5 separate regions of the Homo sapiens genome follow, and regions 1, 3, 4 and 5 are each linked to region 2. Evidence: fine-mapped expression QTL. A gene starts in region 2. Each other region holds a variant in brackets. All regions are shown on one strand. Distances are between the middles of the regions.

Region 1 (5,108 bases), 110 kb after region 2:
ACGGCAGTTCTACCAGGCCTAATCGCCACTCATAAGTAAAGGCAGGCTATGCTATAGTACCTTCCACATCTATCATTGAGGCTACTGCTCTGTCCCCCCTCTACTACCTCTCAGCAAGCCAAACTCATTGCCTTAACTCGAGCCCTCACTCTTGCAAAGGAATTGCATGTCAATATTTATGCTGACTGTAAATATGCCTTCCATATCCTGCACCAGCATGATGTTATATGGGCTGAAAGAGGTTTCCTCACTGTGCAAGGGTCCTCCTCCATCATTAATGCCTCTTTAATAAAAACTCTTCTCAAGGCCACTTTACTTCCAAAGGAAGCTGGAGTCATACACTACAAGGGCCATCAAAAGGCATCAGCTCCCATCGCTTAGGGCAATGCTTATGCTGATAAAGTAGCTAAAAAAGCAGCTAGCATTCCAACTTCTATCCCTCATGGCAGTTTTTCTCCTTCTCATCTGGTCACTCCCACCTACTCCCCAACTGAACACAAGGCAAATGGTTCATGGACCAAGGAAAATATCTCCTTCCAGTCTCACAGGCCCATTCTAATTCTGTCGCCATTTCATAACCTCTTCCATGTAGGTTACAAGCTGCTAGCCCACCTCTTACAACCTCTCATTTCCTTTCCATCGTGGAAATCTATCCTCAAGGAAATCACTTCTCAGTGTTCCATCTGCTATTCTACCACTCCTCAGGGATTATTCAGGCCTCCTCCCTTCCCTACACATCAAGCTCAGGGATTTGCCCCTGCCCAGGACTGGCAAATTGACTTTACTCACATGCCTAGAGTCAGGAAACTAAAATATCTCTTGGTCTGGGTAGATACTTTCACTGGGTGGGTAAAGGCCTTTCCCACAGGGTCTGAGAAGGCCACTGCAGTCATTTCTTCCCTTCTGTCAGACATAATTCCTCGGTTTGGCCTTCCCACCTCTATATAACCTGATAACGGACCAGCCTTTACCAGTCAAATCACCCAAGAAGTTTGTCAGGCTCTTGGTATTCAGTGAAACCTTCATACCCCTTACTGTCCTCAATCTTCAGGAAACATAGAACGGACTAATGGTCTTTTAAAAACAAACCTCACCAAGCTCAGCCTCCAACCTAAAAAAGAGGACTCTGTCAAGGATAGAGCTCAAAAACTCACCAACCAAGCAAGTAATTACGCGGAACCCCTTTGGGCACTCTCTACTTGGATGTCCTGGGTCCTCCCAATTCTTAGTCCTTTAATACCCATTTTTCTCCTTCTTTTATTCAGACCTTGTGTATTCCATTTAGTTTCTCAATTCATACAAAACTGTATCCAGGCCATCACCAATCATTCTATAAGACCAATGTTTCTCTAACAACCCCACAATATCACCCCTTACCCCAAAATCTTTCTTCAGTTGAATCTCTCCCACTGCAGGTTCCCACACTGCCCCTAATTCCGCTTGAAGCAGCCCTGAGAAACATCACTCGTTATCTCTCCATACCACCCCCAAAATTTTTTGCTGCTCCAACACTTCACTATTTTGTTTTGCTTTTCTTATTAATATAAGAAGATAAGAATGTCAGGCCTCTGAGCCCAAGCTAAGCCATCATATCCCCTGTGACCTGCACATATACATCCAGATGGCCTGAAGCAACTGAAGATCCACAAAAGAAGTGAAAATAGCCTTAACTGATGATATTTCACTATTGTGATTTGTTTCTGCCCCACCCTAACTGATCAATGTACTTTGTAATCTCCCCCACCTTTAAGAAGGTTCTTTGTAATTCTCCTCACCCTTGAGAATGTACTTTGTGAGATCCACCCCCTGCCCACAAAACATTGCTCCTAACTCCACCGCCTATCCCAAAACCTGTAAGAACTAACGATAATCCCACCACCCTTTGCTAAACAGCCCTGTTGCTCACACAAAGCCTGTTTGGTGGTCTCTTCGCACAGACACTTGAGAAAGGGTTCAGTAAAAAAAGAAAAAACAAAAAAAACAAAAAACAGTCCCTGGAAATAGGCAATTCCAGAGCCACTGGTGCGCAGAAGCTGGGCTATCTCGTGCCAACAAACGAAAGGGAACCACAGGAGCAGAGCAAATGTGGGCAATGTTTTGAAGACAACAGACTATAAAGAGAAGGAAGCAGAGCTATAGAGCATAGTTAGACGCAACTGAAGATTGCTTACTGCCCTAGTCTGTTCACACTGCTCTAATAGGATACCATTGGCTTGTAAAACAACAGACGCTTATCTCTCACAGTCCCGCAGGCTAGGAAGTCCAAGATTAGGGTGGCTGCAGATTTGGTGTCTGGTGAAGGCTCACTTCCTGGTTCATACATGGCCACTTTTTGCTGTGTTCTCACATGGTTGAGGGGGCAAGGGAATCTCTCTGGGCTCTCTTTTGTAAAGGCACTAATTCCATTCATGAAGGCATCACCCTAATTACCTCCCTAAAGCCACACCTCCAAGTACCATCAAATTAGGATTAGATTTCAACATATGAATTTTGAGGGATGCAAACAGCCTGTTGCTCTTAGTTTTGCAACAGGGAAGCCAAAAGATGCTAAAAGAGGCTGAGAGGAAGGATGAGTGGAAAACATGGATCATTGTCCATATTCCTAACTAAAGCCAATCCCTTCCCCAACCTTTTTTTTTTTTTTTTTTTTAAGACGGGGTTTCTCTTCCCTCTCATTTGATCCCATCACTTCTTTCTGCTCAAGGCCACTGCTTCAGAATTCTCTTTT[C/G]TCTTGACTTAACCGTTTTTTTTCCCTTTTGCATCAGCATGCAAACCCACTAAGATTTCTTTCATTTTAAAAACAAAAAGTCTTGAACTCCCATTTCACTCTCAAGCCATTGTCTGTTTCTCCCCTTCCATTCTCAGCAAAACACCTCAAAAGAAGTTTCTTTATTAGTTGTCTCCAAGTTTTCATCTTTCTTCTTCTTCTGAATTAACTTCCATGAGCAGTGGTGGAGTGTAGGAATGTGCCCACCATTCTATTGTAACTTCCCTGTCAAAGTCATCAAAGACTTTCTGATGGCTAAATTCAATGGTCAATGAAAAGTCCTCATTTTCCATGACCCATCTGTGGCATTTGACCCATCAGTCCCTTCTCATGACATATTCTCTTCCCTTGGCCTCTAGGACATCACATTTGCCTAGTTTTTCTACTTCTTTGGCTGCTCCTTCTCCTCTTTTGCAGGTTCCTCTCCACGTCCACAACCTCTAAAAATTGGACTGTGCCAGAGACCAGTTCATCCTCTTGCCTTTTTAACTCTATATTTCCTCCCATGGTGGTTTTTCCCTAGTGTCATGACTTTAAATACCAGGCTGAACCTCTCCCCAAAACTATAGACTATATATCCACTGCCTATTTTAACATCTCACTTGGATGTCTAGTTAGCATTTAAAATTGAGCTCCTGATATTCTACCCCTGTGCCTAATCCTTCCAAAATCTTCCCCATCCCAGGAAACAGCAGCTCCATTTTTCCTGTTGCTCAGGCCCAAAGCCTCTGAGTTATCCTTCACTCTTATTTTATTCTCATACCTTACATCTGATTTTTTAGCAAATACTATTGGCCCCAACTTCAAAATATGTTCAGAATCTGATCACTTCATACCACGTCCACTGCTAACTCCCTAATGACTAAGGCCTCGTTCAGGCCACTTTCTTCTTTCTTACCCGGATTTGTTGCATCAGCCTCCTAAAAGGACTCTCTGCTTCCATCCTTGTGCCCTCCAGTTTGTTCTCAATGCAGCGGCTGAACGATCCTATTAAAATGTAATTCAGATCATATCACTCCTCTGCTCAAAATACGCCAGTAGTTTCCCATCTCACTCAGAGCAAAAGCCAATTGCCATGACCTTTAAGATCTCAGTGACTTCATTTTACTGGCTTCCTTGGTGACCCTCTCTTTCATGCACATTCTGTCCCAGGGATATCAGACCTCAGGGCCATTGCACTTGTGTCTCCTGCCTGGAATGCATGCTCCTTCACCTCCTTCAAGTTTTTGTTTAAATATCACCTTCTTATAGAAGATTTCCCTGACCACCCTATTTAAAATTTCAGCATTCTCCCCTTGACCCCTAATTATCTCTTGACTGCTTTATCTTTTCTCTTAGGGCAAGGATTTTTGTCTGTTTTGTCCATCCCCAGTGTCTAGGATATGCTTAGCAATGAGGATGCTGAATGAATGAGATTAGTAATATTGGAAGGCAGAGGGATCATTGATGGATCAAAGTTCAGAGGAGGGTGGAATCCAGGGAACATGAGCAAGGACAGATGCAAAAACTACTAAATTCTTGTTTTAAGAGTCTGAGTAGAGGAGGGAGTTGAGAAAGTTTCTGATACCATCATTTGCACATTGACTGAATCAAATCAATACCAGTGTGTCACCTTTCCTATACATTTACATTTTTAAGCCTTTTTATCTCTAATTGTGTTGGGGAAAATCTTTGTCCCTGTGTTAAAAGAATTGCATGCACTGTCAAGAAGCTCAGTGGAGATTTATTCAGAAAGCCCAGAAAGCCTTCTTGTTGGCCTTGAAATCATCTTACACCTGAGGCACACCTGATTTACTCTTGAACACATATCATTTCTGAAGCATCAAACAGATATTATTGTTGTTGTTGTTAGTATTATTATAATTACTACTGGCATGCCTGGCTGTGAGGCTGGATTAGAAGCACTGGTCTCATTGAATCCTCTTCCATCCCTTAGATTCAATACTTCATATCCTAAGGATCCAGAGCCAAAATTGTTGAGTCCTTTTTCCTCCCTGAGTGTACCTTTATCCCCCTTCAACATGAGAATCCTGCTGAGAATCCCAATAAATAATTCCAAACCCCAATCACAGATTCTCCTTGGCCTTGGGTCTTTAACACTTAAACCAAGGGAAGGGAGCAATTACATAACTGCTCAAGGACAAGTACAGGGAAGAAGGGTGGCAAAGATGGAAGAAGAGAGGATCAGGAAGAGGGCTGGATGCCTTGGGGTATAGGCAGGAACACAGGAAGTTTGGCTGTACTTCGGACAAGTGCACTTACTGGTCTCAATGGTGTTACTGATTCCATGGTGAAAAGGTCAGGACTGCATTGCTGCATATCGATCCTGAATTCTGGAAAA
Region 2 (5,108 bases):
GACAATATAGTAAAATTTAATGTAGTAGTGCTAAAAAATTTAAATATAAGATTTAATATTAAAATTTTAACAAGATGTTTCTCCTGTCATCATCCCTTCTTCCCACTAACTGGTGTGATTAGAAAGCAAGATTAGTAGGCTACAAAGCTAAAAGCAACATTTCAGGTTATATTTCATAAAAGATGTGGTAAAAATCCTTCATCACTGTTTTCTGTTGGGCCACCATCTGTCTCAGTGAGTACTTCATCTCATTACTTAAGAAAAATTAATTCAACCAAGAAAATATCCAAAAGACAGGGGATTCAACTCACTTGAACATTTGTGGGTGACACAAGATGACAAGAGTTAGTAAATACGCAAAAACTAAATATTTATCCAAACATAAGATCAGAACCACAAAACTCAATTCGTTTCTGCCTAACATATGGCTCAAACTCCTGAGTGGCGTATGTTTAGTACTGGAGCTGGTAACAGCATGGTGATAAAATATTATAGTAAGAGTTCAACTGTTATTTCATTCCTACAATACAGAAGCATACACACTTTGGTTTCAAGAACTAAAAAACACAGACCACAGTAAGAAGCAAAATAATTACGTTGTTCGGTTTTAAAAACCCATAGTGAACACATAATGATTATACCGCAAAAAGAAAAAAAAAATCTCATCAGCCTGCGACTCTTATTTAATAGATGGTCAGACACAAAGGTGTCCAAAGGAACTTACGTAAAATCTCACAAAAGAAAATCTCGAATTCACAATCTCTAGCACCCCCAGCAAATCATCGCATTCCACCCTCTAAAATATCCCAAGGCTTGTAACGCTAACAGTTGAATAAAAGAACAATTAACGACCACATCCATTAAAACAGTCCCTCTTCTGCTCGCAATCTGACAGCGAAATTATCTGTTCATTTTCCTTTACCTAACACATGACGTCGTTTCCAAAGCCGTGTCAAAAGTTCGAAGATCCAGGTTGTTAAAACCGGGCGAGGACTGCAGCCTCGAGTCCACCTCCCGACTGAACAGGTGGTTAACTCGCCCGGGGAGAGGAACTGCCAGGTACTGGAAGCAGCCACGCAGGATCAAACAGAGGGCGGGTTTTCGAGGTTTTAACCCCAAGATGAGCGGGGAAAACTCTCTTCAGAAAAGCGTTCAAGTTCGGCGGCTGCCGGGCGGCCAAAGCCGAAGGCGCCGCGGGTGCTGGGCGATCCTCTCAGGAGGATTCCGCCCCAGCCCCCGCCCCCGCCCCCGCCCCCGAGCCCTCCGGAGCTACGCGGCTCGCCGCGGGGAGGAGGCGGGGGACAGAGAGAAGGGCCGCCCGCGCACCAGCGCCACCTCCCTCGGGCTAGATGCCGCCTCCTCTTGGGCTGGATGGCGCCCCCGGCCGCGCCCCCGCAAGCGTGTCCTGGCTAGGCTCGGCCCCGGCAGGTGCCCGACTAGTAGACCGGTCCTGTCCCCGGCCCCACTGCCCCTCTGCACCTCTGCCCACAGCGCGCCCACAGAAGGGGGTGGTCCGCGCCCCTCGACGGGGCCGAGCCCTGGAGAGTGCCCCGGCCCTCAGTCCCAGCCTAACGGTTTCCGCGGCGCCTCCTCCGGGGCGGGACGGGGTTGGGACGGCTCGGTGTCCCCCGCCTTTCGCGGAGGGAGTGCCCGCGCTCTCACCTCCGAGTCACGCCGTTCTGAGGCAGAAGGCGGCTCCTCTGGCGCCTCTTCTTAGGGTTCCTGATCGTTGTCTCTCTACCTCAGCTGCAGAGTCAGCTCTCAGGGCCGCCGCGGCCGCCGGCGCGCTGACTGTTGGGGTTGTTTCCTGGCAGTGACGCCGCCGCCTCAGCCCCGCTCTTCGCTCCCTCTCCGCGTAGCTCCCGCTTTCTGTTTCACCCGAGGGACCACGAACGCCGCCGCCGCCATGCTTACTACGGAGCCGGGAGGAGGAGCCCGAAGTCGGCGCGCCGAGTGCGGCTGCGCGGGCCCCGCCGACGGAGCCCGCGGCCGGGACCCCGAACCCCCGCCTCGAGCCCGCCGCGCCGGGGCTCTCTCACCGGAACGCGAGTCCCCGCGGGGCCACCGGCGCGTGGCGGCTGAGCGGCCGCGTTTGGCTCCCGGAGCGCCCACACCCTCTCGGGCTTCCGGCTTTCTCCCGAGGCCCGGCTGCGCCTGGCTTGTGGTAGCATCCGCTGTGGCCAGGCTCGGAGCTACACTCAGGAAAAGTGGAGTTAATGGAGGTTCCTAGAGACACTCACACAATTCTCAATCCACATTTCAAAAGGCTCCCCTGAGACGCACCCTGTCGGCCCCTTTCCGAAAGCACGCGAACTTAAGGCTGGCAGGTGCTTTAAAAGACACTCCTCCCAAGGACTAGGAAGCCTCTGAAATGGGCTTGGAAGTTTCTAATCCCAAAGACTTCGAACCCAGGATCTGGATAGCAAGCAAAAATATTTAGATATTTACTCAGTTGAAAACGTGGGGGGTGGCTTCGTGGTCTCTTCGCCAGCCAAATCGCGTGGAAAACCACGACCTCAATTTTTACAACAGCACGAAGACTTACAAGTGAGCGTAGCAGCGACTTCCTGGAACCTCAAACAATGTGGGACGCTGCAATAATGCCTGAGGGCTTTTGACTTACAGTTGCCGCCGGAGACCTGGGGAGGGGGTAGTACTTGGGCCGGTGAGTCCAGCCTCAGGAACTGTCCTTTCAAAAATGGTGATGGATGTAACAAGTTGCATGTCTGGGCTTTATTTCAGTGTATTAATTGTGCGATCTTTTAAAATAGCTGTATTTTTAAAACTGTTTTACAGAAATCTCTTTAAAATGTGATTATTCTCTATATTCTTAAAGAATACAATGGCTAATTAAATCCTTTGTTGATAACTGACTCTCAAACCGATATCTTGGCCATACGTTTAAGTCCCAGAGGATTGCTGCGGTGTATAGAATCCCTACTTTGGTGCTCTCTTTTTTTCCCTCTTTGGAATGTTCTCATCACCTCTTCTAAAATCCTTCACTGCTTTTCATCTCCTCATCTGCCTCTATCCACTCTGATCCTTCCTCTTATTCTTTCTGCTTTACTGTTTATTTTTCATTCTTCTCTCCTTTCTCGGCTGGTTTTCTCTGCGGCTCCAGGTGAAGATTGATGGGATGTTTATGTCCACAGCCAGCTAATGAGAGGTTTCTTTTCTTCTGGTTGTAAATAGGGCAGTGGTATCTTGAGATATTTTCATTGCTCTTCACTATCAGAAGTTCTTTCCCTGTGAGAGATGTTTCCTTTTCTTAACTTTTGGATTTGGCCCTCTTCGAGACAGCTGGCAAGTTGATCTTGGAATAATTGAAGTATAACTGTATATTGTTTCAAAGTATGAGGATTTTATCAGAGTGTGGGCGAATGGGGTGGCTTCCCCATCTTACTGCCCAACTATGCTTGGTCTGAGACTAAGATAGTGGTTTCCAAACTTACCGCTAAGCTAATACTTTCCTACTCTGCTTCCTACTCAGGAGCTTTTTGAAAATACAGAATCCTGCAATCTACCCCCTCAAGATTCTGATTCCTTTGTCCAGGGAGAGGCCAAGACATGGCACTTTTAAAAACTATATTTAAAAAAATATGTTTGGGACATGCCTACATGTAAAGGCAGAGTAAAGAAGATCAGCTGTTTTTGAAGGAGATTAACACATAATTTAAGAATGTTATTGAAGACCTAGAGATTGTAGTCAATAATATGCAATGCAGTAAGGTGAAGTAAAGTGAAGACCAAGGAATTTATGGCCTTTGGAGAGAAGAAAACCCACACATAAATGACCCTAGCATGTGCACCAGTATGAGTTCTCTGGGAACAGAGAGAGGGTCAAGAAATTATGTTGGCTTTGAACAAGTTCTCTTCTCAATGCTTCACTTTTTTTTTATCAATAAAATGGGAGCCATTTTCAATCCTCATCTTTCTTGGCCTCTCAACAATACTCAACACTTTGACCACTATTCTTTCTTAAACATTTCTTCTTCCTTTGACACTGCATTTTCTTGGTTTTCCTCCTTAGTTTCCTAGGCACTGCTTCTCTGATTCCTTTGCATATTCCTGCTGGTCTCCCTAACTATTAAATATAACAGTACCTTAAAATTCAGTTTTAGATTCTTTTCTGTTTTCATTGTAATCTCTTGGCCTAAGCAGCATCACCCACGCCAATGGCTTTAGTTATCATCTATATGCCAGTGATCTCCACATATATGCCTCCAGCCCAGACCTTTCCTCTAAATTCCAAATCTGATCCACTAGTCAAAGTTTGACCCTACCTCTAAATTCCAAGCTTCACTGACATGGCCACTTAATATCTCAAAGTTGCAAAGTTTAGTCCAACTGAGTTCATGAACACTTGTTTTCCTTATCCCCCATCTCTCTAGTTATTCAAATCAAATATCTAGTAGTCAGTAACCGCTGATGTCTCCCTCACCTCCATTCTTCCATTCTCCATATTTGTTGCAGCACTAACTCCTGGCAATTTTATTTCTAAAATCTAATTGGTCTACTTCTTTCCAATCACCACCAATCTAATTCGATCTCACTGTATACAATCTGGGATCCTCCATTCAGTCTCCATTTTGCAGCCAAAATTATCCTCTAAGAAAGCAAATGAGACTATGTCACTACTCCAAAAATCTCCTTAAACAGTTTCTCATTGCTTTAGGATAAGTCTAGAATTCTTAAGGCAGCCTAAAAGACCATACGAGGTCTGGCCTTACCTGCCTTTTCCAGCCTCATCTCACACCATTTTCACCTTGTTTCCTGGGCAGACTTCCTGGTCTTCTTTTAGTTTCTCAAAAATGCTATGATCCCAACAACCAAAGGCTCTATGTACATGCCATTCTCTCCTTTAGTTATCCTATCTCTTACTCATCCTTCAGGTCTCAGCTTGAAAGCGACATCCTTGGGAAAAACATTTCTGACCTCCCAGATACATTCAAGATACCTTGTTATGTCAGCTCTCTTACCACCATATACCCTCCCCTCTTATGACTTACCACAGCTTGTAACTACATTTTGGTATGTGTAACTACTAGGTTAATGTCTGTTGCTCCCCACATTAGGATAAAGACCATGTCTATTTGGGCCTGCACAGT
Region 3 (5,108 bases), 160 kb after region 2:
TTGATACTTGTGTGTCAAGTGTAATGATATTTAATAAATGCTTGCTAGTAAAAGCTCGTGTCATGTCACAGAGAATTTGTTACATTGGAGAAACTGACATGTAAGTCTTATGCATTTGATTTAAAATGTGTATTTGAATTTAGGCTTCTCATATAAGCAAAAACAGCATAAGAAAAATGGACTTGGCCTATAACCAGTATTAGACTGTTTAAAAGAGCTTAACATTTTAATTCATTCATTTTACAAAACCTTCTAAGTATTTGAAGAAGCTATTGCTTCTTCTGGTTGTAAGCCAGAAGCCATTTAGGCATTTGAAGGGCTGAAAAAATGAAATGCATTATTTTTATTAATGAGGCTTAAAGTGTTAAAAGGTATTTGATTAACTAATTTTGAAAGGGGAGTTCCTTGTTACAGATGCTTAGAATGTTTGATGTGAATGGATCAGATATAATAGCCCAATAACATTTTTAAGTTAAACCTCAAGTCCTTAAAGTAAACAAGGTTTTAAATTTGTATTTAATCAACTAATTTGATTTCTATCTGATAACGATAGTGTTTTCTGTGTACAAGTCCCCTCTGATATCAGAATACTCATGTTGACAGCTCACAAACCTACATGTGAAAGCTCTGGACTGGATTAGGCTAGAGTTCTCCCCAAGAGACATCAGTTTAGGATCACATAGATGGAGGCTTGGAGAAGGCTGCCCAAAACACAACTTTTCATGTAGGAGACACCTGGCATGCTGAAAGTTGTGCATCTACTCCTAAGCTGGCCTTTATCCTGACGATTGTCACCTCTGCATAAAGTTCCATACCTCTCTCTTCCAAATCAATTTGTTTGGTTGGTTTTCTGGCTACTCCCAAAATTAGGCTCTGAAATTCTCCACTTTCCCAATGACATAGCCTGTCATTCCTTTCACCACACATGCGCTCCACTTTGCAGGTTTGGAATCATTGTTTGCTGCTCAGGTTTGCTATGAAATAGAGATGGTTTCACTTTCACATCTGGTATCTTCAATTTTGCAGCTTGCTCCTGGCTCTCTTCTTAGCATCTATTATAGTGTTGTCTCTTTTTCTCATCTCCTCTCCAAACCTTGACATTTTGCTAAATTTTGGAATCAATTTCTTCAGAAGTACGTTGTGAGATTGCGTGTTGATGGCATTAGATAAAAGAGCACTGCATTTTGTGTTGCATAGCAAAAAAAGGATGGCATTTGTGTATTTTGGAGTATTGTGAGATGAATGAGCTTCCATATAATTGCAGAACTGAAGTGACAGGGACTCTTCTAATTTTTAAGGCAGGAGGGAAAACAAATTTGGACTAAAATAGGCAGACTGGAGCTGAAAGGCATCCTATTACCTGTGCATTAAGGCAGCCAACTAATCAATCTCAGACAGTCCCGCCAGCTCACATCTTCCAGGTCATCTCTGTCTTATCACTCCATTGTGTAACTCAGGACAATTTATAGCCTGCCTGTGGTTGCTTTGTGTTTATGTTTTTCGGAGTGTGTGCTGAAAAGCTCTAATTCAGCTCTTTTTGTTGAGTTCCTCATGTGTGCATTTGTTTTTTGTTTTTTGCTTTGATTATTTTGCTATAGGGAATTTACTCTGATCTTGTAACATAGGCAGATTATAGTTGCAATTTCATTTGAAATTGATACAAATATGCAAACGTAGAGTGAATGAGGAAGTATTAGATGTATTTGCTTCATCCTGCTTCTCCACCTAGGGAAAATCAATCCATGTTATTTCCACACACTCAAGATACTCTTACATATATTACAGTACCTCTCAAAATGAACTGCCTTTTCACTGAGAGCTTTTGTTTACATAGGGGACATGAATAGTTCAAAAGCCATACTAATAAAATTATACTGCAAGGACTTAGGATAATGTATTCTTTGGGAAAATCATATAATTTTGGTATAAAATTTAAGAATTATAACCAGTGAATTATTTACAATCTTGACAGTGGTAATCTGTATTAAAAAAAAATTGGCCAAGCACAGTGGCTCACACCTGTAATCCCAGCACTTTGGGAGGCCGAGGCAGGTGAATCACCTGAGGTCGGGAATTCAAGACCAGCCTGGCCAACATGGTGAAACCTCATCTCTACTTATATTATTTTTCCCCTTTATTTATGATACCCCACCATTATGTTTAGTATGTATATGATATATAAAAATATGTATATATGTTTTTAGTTTTATAATTGACATTATGCTATAGATCTCACTGTCTGTAGTGCGATCAGAATTTTACTTTTTTGTTGTTGTTGTTGAGATGGAGTTTTGCTCTTGTTGCCCAGGCTGGAGTTCAACGGCATGATCTTGGCTCACTGCAACCTCCACCTCCCGTGTTCATGCA[A/G]TTCTCCTGCCTCAGCGTCCATGTAGCTGGGGTTACAGGCATGTGCCACCACACCTGGCTAATTTTGTATTTTTAGTAGAGGTAGGATTTCTCCATGTTGGCCAAGCTGGTCTCGAACCTCTGACCTCATGTGATCTGCCTGCCTCGGCCTCCCAAACTGCTGGGATTACAGGTGTGAGCCACTGAGCCTGGCCCAGAATTTTACTTTTTTTACTTAACACTAGTTTCAGGAGCTCTATTCATGTTGCTTTATGTACCTCCAGTTTATTGTTTCTGGCTGCTGTATAGTATTCCATATGAGCTTCAGCTGTATTTTATTTATCCATCCCTTGGTTGCTGATGAGCAGCTATTTTGCCTCCCAGTATCCCTTCCCTACCATGAAATAAAATGCTGTGATGAACTTCTTTGTACCTGTCATCTTTGGATCTATGGATACTTTCCTCTGGGTTTAGACTCAAGAGTGAAACTAGATGTACTAAATTTCACTAAGTTTTGCCAATTTTTTTCTCCAGAATGGTTGCACTGGTTTTATGCTTTCACAAGCAGTGCATGAGAAAAGCCATTTTCCTACACACTTGCTAATATTGGCTATTATCTAATTTTAAAAATATTTGCCAACTTATGCATAGTATAAAGGAGTATTTTATTCTTTTTTCAATTTGCATTCCTACAATTGCTAATGCAGCTAAACATATATTTGTTAGCCATTCTGATTTCCCCTTTTATACATTGCTTATTGACATCATTTACCTGCATTTCTTTTAGAGTCCCAATCTTTTTCTTATTAATTGACAAAATTTCCTTGAAATATTAATCTTTTATGGTTTTTAACATTGCAAATATTTTCTCCCAATCTTTTATGCAATTGTTAAGTTTTTCTGTCATGCTATTTGTTGAACAGAAATCCTTAATATTGATGTAGTCAAATTCATAATTTTTGCCTAGTGCTTAATTTTTTTGGAATCTTGCTTGGGAATATAGTCATACTCCAAGGCCACAGAGATAGTCTCTGGTACTTTTTCTATTTATGTCTTTAAGCCATTTGGAGTGTTTCTTTATATAGTAGGGATAAATTTTATTATTCTCTCTATATAAAAAAGGTCAGAATTTTCCAAAGTATTTTCCATGGAAAACTAATTATGTGAGATATGAAATGGTTAAGAGAAAAAGAGTTTTCTGGTCCAATAAGTTTGGGATAAATCTGGTTAAACAGATTTTTATCTTACAGATCTTTTCAGAGTCTTTACTGTGCTAATATATATTTCGAATATTAAGGAGTGGGCAAACTACCAGTCCATGGGCCAAACATGGCCCACAGCCTGTTTTTGTACAGCTTCCAAGCTAAGAATATTCATTATATTTTTAAAGGGTTGTGAAGAAGTGGAAGGAGGAGGAGGGAGAGAAGGTGAAGGGAGAAGAGGAAGAGGAGAAGAAGACCCTATATAACCCACAAAGCCTAAAATATTTACTATCTGGTCCTTCACGGGACAAATTTGCTGATCCCTAATCTATAGTATGCCAAATGGCCAAAAATATATTTATCCCAGAATCCTTTGGTAGAAGAAGTTCTCATGGTCTTCAGCTTTCTTTTTTTTCCTTCCTTCTTTCTTTCTTTCTTTTTTTCTTTCTTCCTTTCTTTCTTTCTTCTTTCTTTCCTTTCCTTTTTTTTTTTTTTTTTTTTTTTTTGATGGAGTCACACTCTGTCACCCAGGCTGGAGTGCAGTGGCACAATCTCAGCTCACTGCAACCTCCATCTCCCAAGCAATCCTCCTGCCTCAGCCTCCCAAGTAGCTGGGATTACAGGCACGCACCACCACACCTGGCTAATTTTTGTATTTTTAGTAGAGATTGGGTTTTGCCATGTTGGCCAGGCTGGTCTCAAGCTCCTCACCTCAGGTGATCCACCCTCCTCGGCCTCCCAAAGTGCTGGGATTACAGGGTGAGCCTCCGTGCCTGGCCGATCTTTGTGTTCTGCAAGGTAAACACCAGGAAAAATTAGTCTGGGCAAGATGGACACAGTATCAACAAAAGCATTAATCTGGTAAATTTCCAGTTAATTTGAAAGCTGTAGAATCACGAAATTATTAAAGTTAGATTAATTGATCTTAGTGGCCAGTCTGTTCCAACCTTCTACTCAATGCCAATCCAATCATGACAATGTCTGATGTTTCTTTTCACTTACACAACCATAGAAGGGAAACTCCTTTGAAAACAGAACTCCGCATTTTGCATTTCTCTCCCTGTGACTGTTCTGCCACCTACACTTCAGTATGTTTGTGCCCCTGCTTCAACCCACTCATTCGGAACTTTAAATTCCATTTTAATTTTTCCATTGCGTCAGTGTTGCTAAAAATACTTCATTAATGCGTCTTATATTTCACAGCCTGGGTCTCTTATTATTATTTTTTTTCCTGATGTTTCTTAAAAGATCTAAGATCATTTTCTTGTCCTATGTTTTAAAATATACTTTGAGAAAAAGAGATCAGAAAATATTTATGATGTGAATTTCTAATAGCTGAAAAGAATTATGGAGTGGAATAGCCTAAGAAGAAAAAGAACAATTGACCAGGGTATAATATGCAGAAGTTTAAAAACTGTGTATTCTGAAAAAGCTTCTGCACAGCAAACAATGAACAAAGTGAAGAGGCATCCTACAGAATGGGAGAAATTATTTGTGAACTTTCTGTCCTATAAGGGATTAGTAACAGAATATATAAGAAACTCAAACAATTCAATAGCA
Region 4 (5,108 bases), 230 kb before region 2:
TTAAGGTTACAGGAAAAAGGGAAAATCAGGTGAAATGTATAGGTATTTAATTAGTCTTTGGAGTGGTATAAAAGCTTATTCTTTTTAAAAGTTGTAACAAACATTGGCAACACTCCACTCTATCTCACTGCTATTCTTGCTTTATCAGAAAGCTATCTTTGAAACCTCTTGGCTAGGAAGGTGACAATTCCTCTAGGTTTCCATTATAACTTCATGCCTAATGTCATATTTACAGCACTGCATTATGACTATTATTAATACTATTATTGTAAAAGCCTCCTTATTAGTCTTTCTAGTTCTGCCCTTGTCCTACTGTAGTTTCAACACTATAGTCAAAACAACGTTGTGTCTGATCACGTGAATACCCTGGTCAAAATCCTCCACTGTCTTCTCATTTCACGTGGAGTAAAAGCCACAGTATGGCCTATTATGCCTTACGTCACTCCATACCACCTATAGGCCCCTTAGGATTAACTATCCGACCTTATCAACTCTTCCCTTTGCTCTCTCCATCCAGTCATATTGGCTCCTTTATGTTCATCAGATTTAATAGGCATGTTCCTGCCTCAGCGTATCTTCTTGGAACACTCTTCTCTCCATAGTCATCTCCTCTGGGCCATGCTGAAATGTCAGCTGAGTGCCCCAAATGAAATAACACTCAGTGCCCTCCCCCTCCACTCCCTATTTCTTTTATCCAATTTTGTTTTTTCTCCATTACACTTATATCTGACAATATATTGTCATGTTTACTTGCTTATAGTGTCTTCTTTTCCACCAGAATGTAAGTAAGCTCCATGGAGGCAAGGGACTTTTTGTTCAGTGCTATATCCTGAGTGCCTGGCACAGAATTCAATGAATACTTATCAGATAAATGAATAATCTGTTCAAGTGTAGTTCATACTGAAAAGATTTGGAATCTTGAGATCTCTGGAACATAATATATACTGAATAAATATTTATGAATTAAAAGGTAAAGATGGCCAAATCTTACACTGAAAATACATAAAAATTAAAAAAGGGTAAAAATATGCATCCACACATTAATATCTTGGTACATACCTGTTTGAATTCTGAATCTTTTCCCAACATAACTTGAAGACTGTAAATAACTGGATCACCTTTCATTGGCTGTAAACACTCCCATGTAATTTCACAAATGTGATCATTTACTTTCTCTATTTTGGGGGCTGTAGGAAACAAATATAAATAATATCTGTTCCACTTGATTTTTAATTTGGTACATCATGCAGACACTTGTCTTAATAAAAATCAACAAATATTTAAAATCCACTTATAAACTTGAAATAAGTATCAGTGAATTTTTGAAATTTGCATCCAAAGAGGTTAAAATCAGCACTCTTGTATTCTAAGATATGGGATCTCACTCTGTCACCCAGCCTGGACAACAGTGGTGCGATCATAGCTCAATGCAGCCTCAGCCTCCTGTGCAGCTACACACACAGGCATATGCTGCCATGCCCAGCTGATTCAAAATTTCTTTTGTAGAGAGGCAGGTCTCAGTATGTTGCCCACGTTGGTCTCAATACTCCTGGCCTTAAGTGAGCCTCCCACTTCAGTCTCCCAAAGCACTGGGCTTATAGGTGTGAGCCACTGTGCCCTGCTTATAGTCAGCACTCTTCTTAAAGCTAAGAGACACTAAACTTGATGAGCAAACAGAAAAATGACTCAGTGAAACTCAATATTATTAGAAAGACTAGTCAAGAAGAGTTCTGCTGTTTAACAAATGATAGGTTTAAGTACATGATCTAGGATATGGTTCTAGAAGTCTCTGTGATTAGTCTTCAGAGCAATTAACTTTATAGACTTTTCAGCTAAAAATAGAGTGTAGCCCTTGCCAGAGTCACTTTAAAATAAGAACCCCTCTAAAATTAAAAGATAAATGTATATACAAATGTGTGTAAATATGTGTACATGTGTGTGTAAAACTAATTGAAAAACCCACATTAATGAAGAATTTGTTTTGCTTAACAGATGACCAAGCTTTCCTTCTGAAATCCAAATGAATGTAATATCAATAACTCAAAACGTTTAAACAACCAGAGTTTGTGATTTTTTTCTTTAAGCAAATGACCTCATTAGAAAACCAGCCTTCCTATTCAATTTAGTATTTTTATGCTA[C/A]ATTATTAAAAACATCAGTGACAAAAGCCAGTACTTGTCTGAATATGAGCGTGCCAGATAAAACAGCTTTTATTATTGAGTGGAACTCTCAGTAGAGTTGGGCTTGCCTATACGATTTTGTATAACTGGTGGACATATACTGGATGCTAAATTTTAATATCAGTAAACAAAGCATTTATGAAAATACATTAAAAAGTAATTTATTATAAAGAAAATAAGTTCAGGATGTATAACTTACCTTTCAAGGCAGCTGGGACAGATTTTGGAGTAGTGAAAATATATTCTTGGGAGAGGGGACCTTCCCCAGCTTCATTACAAGCTTGAATACAGAATTTATAGGATGTTGACTCATTAAGTCTTTGTACTTTGTATGTATGACATGGTCCTCTGTATAGGGATACAAACCTAAAATGGAAATAACTATTAGATAAACCTTATACTACCTTATGATACCTTATTAAAGTGTTTTACAAACTAGTATAAAAACACAGTTATGAACATTATTTAGGAGTGATAAGTTACCCCAAAAGTTTGATGCCAGGAACTCTATGTCACTTAAAATAAATCTGTTTTTCATCAGATTAAGAAAAATAGGATATTTGGTAAATTTCCCAATTTGACATGATTTACCAAAAGTCTGTTACTAAATTTCATGTCCGACCATAACTGTTTCTTCTCAGGCTTCCGGTTTAGCTTTGTTTCTGAATACTGTTTTGTTAATGTACATTTTAAAAGATGCTCAGAACATCACAATTTTCATTACAAATTATTTCTAACTAAAGTCATATTGATAAAATTTGCCAAGTATGGCATAGAGACCTGAGCTATGAGATTAAGTTTCTATTTTAATCTTCCTTGTCTTTATCTGGAAAAAAGAGAATTCTCAATTCCCAGGCAGATTTTTAGTTGACTTGGTGACGTTTTTTTAGAGATTTACAAAAGCAGTATGATAATATAAAATTTCCAATACATTACCCACTTGAACTGTTCAATGAAGTTGAATATCATACATATTTCTCCTAATATGTTATCTATAAGTTGAATGCATCCCATTATTTTTGATTGGATGTTTCTAAAATTTTTGGAAATTAGAGAATGAATAATGAATGCTTATTCAATGCTAACAGTCTGAAAATTGTAGCCAAGTTAAAAATAAAGAAATATTTAATGACAGGAAGAAACAGTACTTCCAATAAGCAGTAATTGGATAAGCCTTGCCTTTTCAACCTCTAAATTTTTTTTTAATGACAGGAAAAAAAAATAGTGGTAATACCACTGTTTAAAAAAGCTGAACAATGACAAAATCTGGATCAGGGAACAACTAAAGTATCATTATGATACCATCCCACAGCAAGTGTATATAGTTGTGAAAATCAAAGGGAATGAAAGTAATCAAAGATATTAAATTGATTTAATTTATTAAATGTGTGCATTAAACTTAACAGTATCATAAAAGGTTTTAATTTCTTTATTTTCCACAACCAAAGGCCATGAGCCATATTCATACCCCATAACAATTCTCTAGATGCTAGCTGAATATTAAGTTGGAAGTTCTATAATAGAATTTATATCTAATAGAATCTTTATTCTATTATCTTTCAACCAAACACTAATTAGACCTGTTTCCAGTAAGCCTTCTTGCACTACCCCAAATGTATGCTAGAAAGGGGAGGAAAAAAATTTAAACAATTAATTTGTCCAGTAATAATAACATATATTAAAGATAAATGGCTATACCAAAAACCTGTACAAGGCAAATAATCTCTTTGTAGAGATAAGGCTACAAAGATTACATAAAATTCTGCCAAGAACAAAGGCTAACATTCATCGATACAGATTTTAGGAAATGATCACGTTTGTTCTGTGTAATGTTCTTACTGGTGATATACTAGTATACAAAATTATTCCATATGTTATTTTAAATGTATAAGTATTTCTGATAGAGAGTGGTTATGTACAAGCACCATGAATATTTCATTGTTGAATACCTGGCTAAGATACAAACAACACAGAAAAGTAAATCTTGGGAAAAACTGTTACTAGTATTCTGAGTCCATCAGATTTGGAAATTGTTTCTAATATATTCAGTGAAAAGTAGAAAAGCAAAATTCAAAATTCTTAAAATATTAAAGGATTAACAGCTGTGGGAGGTATGTGGCATTGCTTATATGGAATATAATGTGAATAAATAGCCCTAGTTGGCATTAGAATGACTGTTACAAATATTCAGAGTTAACACTGTAATTAAAATACATGATTTAGTGTGGCAGTATATGGCACATTATATAGGAATAGTACAACATGTACATGAAGATGTGAAAGAGGCACAGAAAGAACCTGAATGAAATTAGGTTCTTTCTAATTCAAAGATTAGCAAAGATTAGCAACAGTGATTAGCAAAGGGACTAGATAATTAATCACAGAATCTAACTGAGATCACACAGTGAAAAACTGAACTGTATTCATTTAGCGTGCAGGCCCTGTGTCAGGAATCTGGAAAAGACTGAAACATAATCTCTGCCCTCAAGGATCTCAGAGGCCAGGAACGATCATAATCATTTACTATAAAATTGTTTCAGGGCCGGGTGCAGTGGCTCACGCCTGTAATCCCAGCACTTTGGGAGGTCGAGGCAGGTGGATCGGGAGGTCAGGAGATGGAGACCATCCTGGCCAACATGGTGAAACTCCGCCTCTACTAAAATACAAAAAATTAGCCGGGCGTGGTGGTGCGCACCTGTAGTCCCAGCTACTTGGGAGGCTGAGGCAGGGGAATTGTTTGAACCTGAGAGGCGGAGATTGCAGTGAGCCGAGATCGCGTCACTGCACTCCAGCCTGGTGAGAGTGAGACTCCGTCTCAAAAAAAAAAAAAAAAAAAATTGTTTCGGTCAGGCACAGTGGCTCATGAGTTGTAATCTCAGCACTCAGTGAGGCTGAGCGGGGAGGACCACTTGAGCCCAGGAGTTCGAGAC
Region 5 (5,108 bases), 220 kb before region 2:
TTTTTGTATTTTTAGTAGATATGGGGTTTCCCGATGTTGGCCAGGCTGGTCCCGAACTCCTGGCCTGAAGTGATCTGCCAGCCTCGGCCTCCCCAAGTATTGGGATTACAGGTGTGAGCTACTGTGCCTAGCCAAAATTCCAAATATAAATCTGTCATTTAATAGTTTTTTGTTTTTAATTGCTTTTTTTTTTGAGACAGAGTCTCACTCTGTCGCCCAGGCTGGATGTAGTGGCATGATTTCAGCTCACTGTAACCTCCGCCTCCCAGGTTCAAGTGATTTTCCTGCCTCAGCCTCCAGAGCAGCTGGGATTACAGGCACACGCCACTATGCCCAGCTAAGTTTTGCATTTTTAGCAGAGAAGGGGTTTCACCATGTCGGTCAGGCTGGTCTCGAACTCCTGACCTCAAGTGACCCACCCACCTTGGCCTCCCAAAGTGCTGGGATTACATGCATTTACCACCATGCCTGGCCAATATGTCATTTAATAGTATAGACTTACAGACTGCTAGTGGCAGCAAATGATTTACAATAATAAGTATATATAAAAGGTCAGGTGCAGAGGCTCATGCCTGTAATCCCACCTCTTTGGGAGGCTAAGGTGGGGGAATCACTTGAGCCCGAGAGTTTGAGACCAACCTGGGAAACATAAGGGGACCCCCATCTCTATAAAAAAGTAAAAAATCAGCCTGGTATGGTGGTGTGCACCTATAGTCCCTGCTACTCAGGAGGCTGAGGCAGGAGGATCGCTTAAGCCTGGGAGGTTGAGGTTGCAGTGAGCCATGATCATACCCCTGCTCTCCAGCCTGGGTGACAGATACCCTGTCTCAAAAAAAAAGTCTGTCTATCTGTCTATACACACACATACATACAAAGGTATCTACAAATAAAGAGTACTGTTATACATGTTATAAGGCAACCTAAGAAAACATATCAGTCACACAGATAATTCAGTTTAGTTCATGGAGAGCATGGAAAGGGCCACTAAATGATAGAAACTTGAGGTTTAGCACAACTATTTATAAGAACTGAAGTAAGGATTCTGTTCCTCAAGTCCTATAGGGATTAAAAAAAGTTTTCCATGACAAATGTCATTTTTTTGCCCCCCTTTTTTGAACAAGGTTAATTCATGTCGACAACAACAAAATAATGACAAAGCTTCACCATTCTAGCATGCTGAATGGATTTTATTTAAAATAAAACTGTAAATAGTGTACTTATAGTACATTATTTATCAGTACTGCTCTCTGGTAGGCATAAATTTTATCTTAAAATCTGGAATAGCTTTAGAAAGGTCTAAAATGTATGTTCTCTGGAAATACGGAAAGTAAATATTTACTTAAGGTGATTTTGACAAATTATCACAAACCTGAAAATATAAATTAAGACGTAAGTATTAAAGATGCGATCCTAGTGTACTGCAGCCTTGTGAGGCTGACAAGATGGCTTCTTACAGAAAGGAATGACTTGTGTAAGAGCAGCCTAAGTATATAAATTTGACATATAAGAAATTTAGGCCGGGCATAGTGGCTCTTGCCTGTAATCCCACTACTTTGGGAGGCCGAGGTGGGTAGATCTCTTGAGCCCAGGAGTTTGAGACTAACCTGGGCAACATGACAAAACCCTCTCTCTACTAAAAATATGAAAAAATTATCCAGGTGTGGTGATGTACACCTGTGGTCCCAGCTACTTGGGAGGCTGAGGTAGAAGGGTCACCTGAGCCCAGGAGGCGGAGGTTGCAGAGAGCCAAGATCACACCACTGCATTCCACCCTGGGTGACAGGGTGAGACCCTGTTTCAAAAAATCAAACAGAAATAAATTGAAAAATAAGTTTACAGATGTAAATACAGAACCCTGTTGGAAAACAGGATTTGAAATATAGTATAGTTCACCAAAATAATGGGTAGGAGAGAACTGTCAGTTTAATTCTATAAAAATTTTAATTATACAATAGTTGAAAGAAATTGTTATTTAGCTGAGATAGGAAATTACTGCTTTGTCCTTAGGGAACCTGCTTTATTGCAGAGAGATGAGAGGTGTCATAGCTGAGTGGAAAGAGCTTTGGCTCTGGAGTCTGACAAACTAAGGTTTGTAGCTTACCTCTATCACTTATTAGTTTGTATGACTGTGGGCAAAATATTTAGCTTTCCTGAACCCGTTTCCTTAGTTGTGAAATGGAGATATCACCTACTTTGTCCACTTTTTGGAGTTATATATTAAATACATAGATAATATTTCAAAAAATACATACAAAACCAGAATAGTTTCAAGCATAAGTTTTTTTTCATTTGGGCAAAAAAAATGAATCATAATTAGTTGCCAACTGAAAGTAAATGCTACTTTAGCCTCAAAAAACTTCAATCAGCCTCAAAAACCTCAAAAACTTCAATCAGCCTCAAAAAACTTCAGTACTTATGATTTTATTTCTACTCTTAAATTGATTAAGTAAACTCTATTAACACTGCCTAAAAGGTAAACTCTAGCCCAGCTGAAGTCCAAAGTGTCACAAACTGTAAGTGGGATCTAAAAATACTGAGATTTCATAAAAATTAAGTTATGGAATATACCGACTTCTCTTGTATTTATCAATGTAGGCTTGTTAAAAATTGTAAAATTTGGAGTCATATGTTAAAGCCAAATGGCCAAATAATGGATATGATGATATATGTTAAAATGAAACATATATCACCATTGTGATTATAATTCTACCAGCACAGTCTTCTTACCCCCATTTTGTTAGCTGCACGTAGTCTGAAGCTGTATGTCTTTCCAGGAAGAAGGCTGCTCACTGTACATTCTACTTCAGAACCTTGGTAAACTTCTCTAGGTTCATCTTTTTCTATAGGAGACATTTCCACACTGTAACAGGAAATGGGTGATCCACCATCAACCAGAGGGGGTCCTAAAAGATGGAAAGATTAATGCAATTTAACAAGACGAATACTTCCTGTTCTAGCTTAATTATAATTTATTACCAAAATGGAAATTACCCCATCGTAACTGTATTTCTTTTGCTTTGGGTCTACCCTGTAATCTGGGAGGGAGGCATGGGCCAGGAGGCACAGCTGGAGTCTGCACAAGTAAAGATTCAGAGACCTGCCAAAACAAAAGCAAAAAGAAAACAAAAATGCCCCAAAACCAAATAATCA[G/AG]ATTGCTTTTGGTAAGGAAAAATAATATAAACACAAATATTGCACTGATAATTTGAAATTGTACTTGATTGTCAACAAAAAAGGAATAAAGTTCTGAAAAAAAATGAAAACCCAATTAAATAAAAACTCAAAATTTTCATAGACAAAGAAAGACATGTACTGTGCAACTACTATATACAAAGCAAGTTACTGAAAAAGAACTTCAATGAACCCTTCCTTTCCTTTTCTTTCCATAACTAAAGAAAAAAACAACTTCCAACACAATTTAATGGGCAATATTTTTGATCTTCTCCAAAAGGATCCATAAATCTCTTCTAAGGAGGGATGTTTTAAAATACTGTATATGCTGTTTGTATTGTTGTAAGGAGGTTTAGAATATTTTGGCTACTTTACTACTGTAGACTGTATTTTTAACCTAAACACTGATTTATTTATTTATTTTTAGAGATGGGGTCTTGGTATGTTGCCCAGGATGGAATGCAGTTGCTATTCACAGGTATGATTACAGCCTCAAATTCTTAGGCTCAAGCAATCCTCCCACGTCCAGAGTAGCTGAGACTATACACATTTGTCACTGCACCAAGCTTAACTTATACATTAAAAGATTATCTTTCCTTCATCCTTTCCACCTAAAAATAATTCTAAAATCAGGTAAGCTTTTCCAGTTACTTGGCATCTTTCTAGGTATTTGATACTGCTTTTAGTTTCTATGCTATATTTATATTTTAAAAAGCCTTTATTTTTAAAGACACTCTGTTAAAAACAATGCCACACTGGGCCGGGCGCGGTGGCTCACACCTGTAATCCCAGCGCTTTGGGAGGCTGAGGCGGGTGGATCACAGGGTCAGAAGATCGAGACCATCCTGGTTAACATGGTGAAACCCAGTCTCTACTAAAAATACAAAAAAGTAGCCGGGCATGGTGGCAGGCACCTGTAGTCCCAGCTACTTGGAAGGCTGAGGCAGGAGAATGGTGTGAACCCAAGAGGCAGAGCTGGCAGTGAGCCGAGATCGTGCCACTGCACTCCAGCCTGGGCAACAGAGTGAGACTCTGTCTCAAAAAAAACAATGCCACAAACTCAGTGGCATATTACTTACTTGCAACATATTAAGGTTCATACTTAACATTCTTTTTAAACACAAAATATTTGGTCATCTTTTTATCAGAAAGCTATCTATGTAAAAATGCTGTAAAATGCTATAGTAGAACAGGATTTTGTGCATGTCTATGTGTTGTTGCTTTTCTGAAATCCAGGGAGATTTTCTTACTGGATAAAATGAAGCAACTGGAGCACAAGCCAGTTGGGCAGGACTCACACTCAGTTGCACATTAGTTTCATTTTCAACAAAATGCCTATATTTCATTTTTAAAAAAGAATACTTTCATTGCATTAAATTTCATTTCAAAAAAAAAACCCAGCAATTATGAATGATCCAAGAAACCATTCTTGGTTTAATTCATTTAAAAAAAAAAAATCACTTGGCCGGGTGCGGTGGCTCATGCCTGTAATCCCAGCACTGTGGGAGGCTGAGGCCGGTGGATCACGAAGTCAGGAGTTCGAGGCCAGCCTGGCCAACATGGTAAAACCCCGTCTCTACTAAAAATACAAAAATTAGCCAGTTGTGGTGGGGGGCGCCTGTAGTCCCAGCTACTAGGGAGGCTGAAGCAGGAGAATTCTTGAACCCAGGAGGCAGAGGTTGCAGAACCCAGGAGGCAGAGGTTGCAGTGAGCCCCAATCGTGCCACTGCACTCCAGCCTGGGCGACAGAGTGAGACTGTTTCCCAAAAAAAAAAAAAATCACTCATTAATAAACATACATCCCTAGAACATTATGTCTTTATATCAATGGTACATTTTAAGTTCATTTTGGTTATTGAGTCTCTAATAATAAAATAATGGCCAACTTTTTTGAAGTAAGTAAATATTAGAAAGTAGATTAAACAGCAGATACTATTTTA

What was found. PIP is the estimated chance that this variant, and not a neighbour inherited with it, causes the effect. A credible set is the group of variants that fine-mapping cannot tell apart.
Region 1: its variant is the best candidate, but not a certain one, in a credible set for the expression of FNDC3A in whole blood (INTERVAL, PIP 0.72).
Region 3: its variant is the best candidate, but not a certain one, in a credible set for the expression of FNDC3A in fibroblasts (GTEx, PIP 0.56).
Region 4: its variant is the best candidate, but not a certain one, in a credible set for the expression of FNDC3A in whole blood (INTERVAL, PIP 0.88).
Region 5: its variant is the best candidate, but not a certain one, in a credible set for the expression of FNDC3A in whole blood (INTERVAL, PIP 0.75).

Annotation. Positions count from the first base shown.
Region 1 is chr13:48,863,544-48,868,651 of GRCh38, reverse strand. It overlaps LOC107984559 (a long non-coding RNA gene), which reads right to left and starts at 3,727. Exons shown (of 3, transcript XR_001749987.2): 1 at 3,666-3,727. The variant C/G (reference allele first, on the strand shown) is at 2,729.
Region 2 is chr13:48,972,732-48,977,839 of GRCh38, reverse strand. It overlaps FNDC3A (fibronectin type III domain containing 3A), which reads right to left and starts at 1,928. Exons shown (of 26, transcript NM_001079673.2): 1 at 1,663-1,928. RefSeq lists enhancers at 894-993, 1,154-1,773, 1,664-1,963, 1,774-2,393, 2,664-2,723 and silencers at 1,134-1,613, 1,944-2,213.
Region 3 is chr13:48,813,237-48,818,344 of GRCh38, reverse strand. No RefSeq gene overlaps it. Among named protein-coding and RNA genes, the nearest start is that of FNDC3A, 160 kb to the left of the region's middle. The variant A/G (reference allele first, on the strand shown) is at 2,368.
Region 4 is chr13:49,199,236-49,204,343 of GRCh38, reverse strand. It overlaps FNDC3A (fibronectin type III domain containing 3A), which reads right to left. Exons shown (of 26, transcript NM_001079673.2): 24 at 2,378-2,544; 25 at 1,060-1,187. Among named protein-coding and RNA genes, the nearest start is that of MLNR, 19 kb to the left of the region's middle. The variant C/A (reference allele first, on the strand shown) is at 2,140.
Region 5 is chr13:49,189,004-49,194,111 of GRCh38, reverse strand. FNDC3A (fibronectin type III domain containing 3A) reads right to left here. Exons shown (of 26, transcript NM_001079673.2): 18 at 2,992-3,097; 19 at 2,728-2,903. Among named protein-coding and RNA genes, the nearest start is that of MLNR, 29 kb to the left of the region's middle. The variant G/AG (reference allele first, on the strand shown) is at 3,151.